Homo sapiens: one gene and its partner. The protein of the gene in region 2 purifies or fractionates together with the protein of the main gene of each other region. This does not show direct contact. Each region holds a gene or a part of one and is shown on either strand. Other genes may lie near its edges.

Evidence for each region.
Region 1: the proteins of SLC25A12 (region 2) and HK1 fractionate together in Homo sapiens (co-fractionation; one large-scale study listed by BioGRID). This does not show direct contact.

Annotation. Positions count from the first base shown.
Region 1 is NC_000010.11:69,395,347-69,398,997, forward strand, and holds part of HK1 (hexokinase-1), read left to right. Parts: intron 1-3,248; coding exon 3,249-3,482; intron 3,483-3,651. UniProt on the Homo sapiens protein: Catalyzes the phosphorylation of various hexoses, such as D-glucose, D-glucosamine, D-fructose, D-mannose and 2-deoxy-D-glucose, to hexose 6-phosphate (D-glucose 6-phosphate, D-glucosamine 6-phosphate, D-fructose 6-phosphate, D-mannose 6-phosphate and 2-deoxy-D-glucose 6-phosphate, respectively).
Region 2 is NC_000002.12:171,782,821-171,786,311, reverse strand, and holds the end of SLC25A12 (electrogenic aspartate/glutamate antiporter SLC25A12, mitochondrial), read left to right. Parts: intron 1-836; coding exon 837-1,038; 3' UTR 1,039-2,907; downstream 2,908-3,491. UniProt on the Homo sapiens protein: Mitochondrial electrogenic aspartate/glutamate antiporter that favors efflux of aspartate and entry of glutamate and proton within the mitochondria as part of the malate-aspartate shuttle.

The sequences.
Region 1 (3,651 bases), on a different chromosome or scaffold from region 2:
GCAGGCGGATCATGAGGTCAGGAGATTTGAGACCATCCTGGCTAACATGGTGAAACCCGATCTCTACTAAAAATACAAAAAATTAGCTGGGTGTGGTGGCATATGCCTGTAATCCCAGCTACTTGGGAGGCTGAGGCAGGAGACTCACTTGAACCCAGGAGGTGGAGGTTGCAGTGAGCTGAGATCGCGCCACTGCACTCCAGCCTGGCCTGGCAACAGAGCGAGACTGCATCTCAATAAATAAGTAAATTACTTACTTTCCTTTTATCCATCCTTTATGTTGGGGCATTATATTGATTTATTTGAAATTATGTGTGTAAGAGGGCCATATGGATTCCATTTCAGATGGTAAAGATGCACTACACATACTTGTATTGGGGGTGCATAGGGCCCACCTGGATTTATCTGAAAGGCAGCCTGGGGTTCAGTGCCAGGCCACCCAGGAGCTGATGCCCCTCAGCAAGTTGTTCCACCTTCTTTCTACTTTTCTCCTGTCCAGGGTACATTTCTTCCTGGCCTTTGCTGTCTTCTAAGGCACGCTGTGTGAGAAGGAGGAAAAAAGGGTCAGAAAAAACAAAAGCAATTGTGCAAATACTGTGTTCTTCTTAGAATGGTCATAATAACCTAACGTAGGCTCTGTGTAGGCTGGGCACGGTGGCTCATGCCTGTAATCTCAACACTTTAGGAGGCCAAAGCAGGTGAATCACTTGAGTTCAGGTGTTCGAGACCAGCCTGGTTAACATGGCAAGACCCCATTTCTACAAAAAGTGCAAAAACTAGCCGGGCGTGGTGGCACATTCCTGTGGTCCCAGCTATTTGGGAGGCTGAGGTGGGAGGATGGCTTGAGCCCGGTGGCGGAGGTTGCAATGAGCTGAGGTTGCACCACTGCACTCCATCCTGGGCGACAGAGACAGACTCTGTCTCAAAAAAAAAAAAAAAAGAGAAAGAAAAGAAAAAAAATATTAAACCTTAAACAAAAAAAAACCTAACAAGCCTATACACTGCTCTTACCCAGGCAAAATGGTTTTTAAGTATACAGTTCGGTGACATTAAGTACATTCACATAGTCGCACAGCTATCACCACCATCCATTTCCGGAACTCTTTTCATCTTCTCAGCTGAAACTCTGTACGCAGCAAACACTAACTCCACATTCCTCCCTCCCCCCACCCCAGCAACCACCATTCTACTCTCTGTCTCTATGGATTTGACAACTCTGGATACTTCATATAAATAGAATCATACAGCATTTGTCCTTTGTGACTGGCTTAATTCACTTAGCATAATGTCTTAAGGTTCATCCGTATTGTGGCATGTGTTAGAATTTCCTTATTTTTTTATTTTTATTTTTTGAGACGGAGTTTCACTCTTGTTGGCCAGGCTGGGGTGCAATGGTGCAAACTTGGCTCGCCATAACCTCTGCCTCCTGGGTTCAAGCGATTCTCCTGCCTCAGCCTCCTGAGTAGCTGGGATTACAGGCGTGCGTCACCATGCACGCCCGGCTAATTTTGTATTTTTAGTAGAGATGGGGTTTCCCCATGTTGATCAGGGTGGTCTCAAACTCCCGACCTCAGGTAATCTGCCCACCTTGGCCTCCCAGAGTGCTGGGATTACAGGCATGAGCCACCACGCCCGGCCATAATTTCCTTATTTTTAAGGCTGAGTGATATTCCATTGCATGCACACACTGCATTTTGTTTATTCATTCATCCATCCATGGACACTTGGCTTGCTTCCACCTTTTGGATATTGTGACAAATGCTGCTGTGAACACGGGTGACCAGTATCTCCTTTCAGTTTGTGTGTGTGTGTGTACGCACCCCAAGTGGACTTGCGGGATCATATGGTAATTCCCTGTTCAGTTGTTTGTGGAACCACCATGTTGTTTTCCACAGTGGCTGTAACATTTTACATTCCCACCAGCAGCCCGTGAAAGTTCTAGTTTCTCCACATCCTCGCCAACACTTGTTATTTTCTGAGTTGAGAATAGCCATCCTAATGGGTATGAAGTGGTATGGAAAGTCTTTTCAAGCATAATAGCAAAGAAAGAAATCATAAAGAAAAATGGCCAAATATAGCTACATAGTGTCTGTAAGTAAAAAAAAAAAGTAATCAAACTTAAAAGGCAACGGTAAACTGAGGAAGACATTTGTACTGTGTATGACAAGACGCCTAGCAGGGCATGGTGGGCTTTGGCAGGTCTGGTCTACACCTGCTCTTCTCCACCGGCTGTGTGCTTTGCAATACTCAATTTCTCCCAGCCTCAGTTGCCTTATCTTTAAAATGGGAATAATCATACATTCATTGGTTGTTTGAGGAGTAAGTAAGGTAATGTATGTAAAATATATGTTACATGGTAAGTCCTCCAAGAAGCCTGGCTGGTCTTCATTGTACCATCCCAGTTATCGTCTCTTTCAATTTAATATAAATAAGACAAATATATCAGGAGAAAAGTCTTGAGACGTAAGAAGTAGTTTATATGGCCAAAAAACAAATGGAAAAAAAAGAGATCATCCTCACTAATAGAGAATAATATAAATTGAACTACAGTCTTGTGATGCCTTCTTATAAAACTGTCAAAAGTTGTAAAAAAATGCTCTTTTCCAGTGAGGATAAGTGTGGCCAAATACTCTGCTGAAGAGTAAATGGATACAATTTTCTGTAAGGCATCTGGCAATGTGTAGCAAAAGCTCGTTGACCCAGAAATTTATCCTAAGGAAAAACATCAGAATTGCACACAAAGATTTATAAACAAACCTTATCAAAATGTTTCTTTATAATAGCAGAAAATTGCAATTAACTTGAATTTCTCCAAGCTGGCTAAAGAAATCATGGTGCATCCCTAGAGGGAATACTGCAGCAGCTGTTTCCAATCCTGTTCTCAGATAAGGCTGTGGGAAATTGCTCAATGCATGAAACAGGAAAGAGAAAGAAAATCACATATCAAGGATAATCCCATTTTGCATATCATGAGAAGCATACCAGCTAGGAAAAATAAACTGGAAGGAAATATATTAAAATGTTAATAGCATTTTCCTAGATGTTGAGATAGTGAATGGTTTAGATTTTCCAATTTTTATTTTGCTAGATTTGCCAAATTCTCCACAGTTTAACATGTAACACTTGCCCTTGACTCTGTCTGTGGATGAGTACAGTGATTGGGGGCGGGGGGCGTCCTTTGGACGTGGTCTCCAGGCTGCTCTTGTGGGTCCTGCTTCATCCAGCCCTCTGGCTCTTGTCCCCCACAGTGACCGATTAGCACTGCTCCAGGTCCGGGCTATCCTCCAGCAGCTAGGTCTGAATAGCACCTGCGATGACAGTATCCTCGTCAAGACAGTGTGCGGGGTGGTGTCCAGGAGGGCCGCACAGCTGTGTGGCGCAGGCATGGCTGCGGTTGTGGATAAGATCCGCGAGAACAGAGGACTGGACCGTCTGAATGTGACTGTGGGAGTGGACGGGACACTCTACAAGCTTCATCCACAGTGAGTGGGCCTTCCAGTTGGGATGCGCAGAGCTTGCTGGGATCCCTTTGGGTTAGGGGGTATCAGGGTGTGGTTTACGCTGGGGAAATGCCCTGCGGGAGCCCAGCCAGGCTGAAGGCTGTGCGTTCAGGAGCTGGGGATTGTCTAGGACAAGGTAATGAACAGTTTG
Region 2 (3,491 bases):
CCCAGGTTCAAGTGATTCTCCTGCCTCAGCCTCCTGAGAAGCTGGGACTAAGGGCGCCCACCACCGCGCCTGGCTAATTTTTTTTTTTTTTAATATTTTTAGTAGAGACGGGGTCTCACCGTGTTAGCCAGGATAGCCTTGATCTCCTGACCTCATGATCCGCCTGCCTCGGCCTCCCAAAGTTCTGGGATTACAGGCGTGAGCCACCATGCCCGGCCTATCTCTCTTTAAATAATTTAATTGATAATCTTTATGAGTCTACTACATAAAAAGTTAACTTCTAAAGTTATGTCAAAAGAAAAATATATACTTTAAAAATTACTTTCATATGTGCTAAGTGCAGAAAATTTGGAAAACCATAAAGCATAAAAGAAAAAAACCAGCCTGGGTGTGGTGGCTCACACCTCCCAGTGCTCTGGGAGGCCAAGGCAGAAGGATTCCTTAGACCAGAAGTTCGAAACCAGCTTTGGCAACATAGCAAGACCCCATCTTTACAAGAAGAAAAAAGAAAAAAATCATCCATAATCTTACTACCCAGAGAGTCTTCATATTTGAGTGTCTTTTCTTCTGACTTTTTTCCTATGGATTTGTTTATATATGTATGCAAGCATTGGAAATAAGGCCATTTCTCTTGTAAATCAAATATGTAGATAAGTTGCTGTCAAAGCAGCTATAAATCATGACTGTGGTTTCTAGTCATGCAGCACAGATGCCATGGAAATGGTTGAGAGAAACATTCTTCTTTGTGGCACATGGGTCAGACCGAAAATGTCCAGCTGTAAGCTGCGCTCATCCACCTTGAGCATGCTAACCATTGGCTTTTTTTCTGTCAACAGCAAACCCGCTGGTTCAGAACCAACACCTAAGTCACGCATTGCAGACCTTCCTCCTGCCAACCCTGATCACATCGGTGGATACAGACTCGCCACAGCCACGTTTGCAGGCATCGAAAACAAATTTGGCCTTTATCTCCCGAAATTTAAGTCTCCTAGTGTTGCTGTGGTTCAGCCAAAGGCAGCAGTGGCAGCCACTCAGTGATGAGACAACTGTTGAGTGTGGCAAAATGGCGCCTTGAAGAAAGAGGCCTAGGAGAGCAGCCCTGTAATGTATCCAGTCAGCTGCATGGTACTGACTGAGCTGAGGAGTCAAACTCTTCTTTCTGTATGACATATACATATACTTGTTTATAAAATAATCATTTGCCCAGGGAAAAAACCACAACGCTGTTTCAAGCTTTAGTCTTATGTGTTGAAATGTTTTTGTAAGCCTTGGCATGAATTAGTGTTCTAGACTCTGCTTTGCACAGCTTGCACTTACAGTGATTGTACATATTGTACATCTTTGTACAGAGACATCTTGGCACCTCATCCCAACAAATCACATTTGTAGAAATGTAATGCGGTTCTGAGTGGCTTGAAATGTACAGAATGTTTTGAAAGTGTTTTATTAAGAATCACACAAAAATAAATGTATTAAAATTAAATTCATTCTCTTATTGGTGACTTATGGAAATAAAGCATCAATATTGGATGTATTTAATTCCTAGTTTGTTTTCCATTCTGGAATAAAAAGGTATTTGCTGATAAAAGGCATAACGAGACATAGTGCTGCTACCACTGAATAAGTGATACTTTGGAAAGATGCATGCCAGTGGATGCCAGAGGACCAGGCTAATGACTTGTGTGTGCTGATGTGTTTCCATTTGTATTTAATGTGTGTAGACCCTCCTCTGTTCATCAATCAAAAAGCATTTCCTAGGCAGCTCCTCGCCTGTCAGTGTGCATATGGAAACAGGGACATCTCCATCATTACTGGCTTAGTTTTGCTTTCCTTTGACACAGTAAGGCAAAGGCCAAGCTTTCAAAAGAGTAAAGGATACTTTCACAATTTCCCTTCATATGGATATGATTCCAGTCAAAAATAAAATGCACACCAAAATGTATACATGTAGTTGGATTTTTCTTTGTAAATATACTGATAATACTTTTTGTTCTGATTGACTACTGATTGCAAATAACTCATGATCGGGTTCGCCCTTTCTTCCACCTTTATAGAAAACAGAAAAATTAGTTTTAGAAAGGGCTAGCGCAGAGTGAAGGGAGGGAAGAAGAAAGAGAAGAAAAGCTCTATATGGTGATTTAGTGGGGTCTAGGTTCTTACTTTGGAATCCAAATGCAAACTGTTCTAAAAGTCACTCATCAAGGGCGTGATTACTAATTTGGATCTAAACATAGATCTTGACAGCCACATCTACACTTTGATATGGATGTGATTTGATGTGCAGTATCAGAATTTATTTACCTTACCAAAGTGCTCTGGGAAGACATTATTGCTACTGCCAGTAAGCTGGGATATGAGAATGTATGCAAATATTTTCAAGAGGCGAGCCTGGAGACAGACCAAGTTACTTAGTATCCTGCACAGTGCTCCTCGATTGATGGCTGACAGCCCTGTGACTGCAACTGTAGGCTCCCTGGAGGCCCTCCAGGAACAAAAGAATTAGCTTTGAAAGCAAGTTATTTTCAAATGTATTAGATTGGTCTCATGGGAGTGGAACAAATAATAATACAGTTGTTTTGCTACTACCACTTGTTAGAAATATATAAGTAGTCCATGGATATGTGATTACAAAAGAATCCTATGTATGTATCTAGAGTGAGATGGGAAAGTGTCCCGCTTACCCTCCTTCTACCTCCACCACTTCCTGGCCCAGAGGTAATCACTGCTAACAGGTTACAGCATGAATATGTAGTCTGTTTTTCATAACTCTATAGAAATATATGTACATATTTATATTTTAGAAACAGGATTATGTTATGTGTGTGTTATTCTGTGTCTTGCTTTTGTTCACTTAATGTGTTTTGGATATCTTTCCATGTCAGTTTATAAAGTTTTATTTTTAATGGCTGCATAGTATTTCATTGTATGGGTTATAATACTTTTCATAAATCTTCCCTTATTGATATTTATTCATTTTTTTCACTACTGCAAACAATGCTGTAGTGAATGGCAGACATCTTTGTACACATATCTTTAGTGCATGTGAATTTCATTAGGATAGATATTTGGAATTGCAATTGAAAACTTTTAAGACAAGCTTTATGTTTTTATACATATTGCCACATTGTTCTTCAAAAAGAGTTATTAATTTACTTTCCTTTGACAGCATATGAGAATGCCTATTTCTTTGCAACCTCAGCAAAGAGGGATATTATCAGTCTTTTACATTTTCAGCAAATCATGATAGCTGATCATGGTTATTTTATTTTTCTAATTACTAGTGAGATTGAATGTCTTTTCATATTTACTGGTCATTTGTATATTTTCTTATTGTGGAATATGGACAAAGTACATGAAACATATGTATGCATGTCCACAACAGATATGTACACACATACATATATATTTTTTAACATATCATAATGTGCATACCATATGACCACCGGGTCAAGAAATAGAACATCTCCAGTACCTCAAAAGCTCCATATATG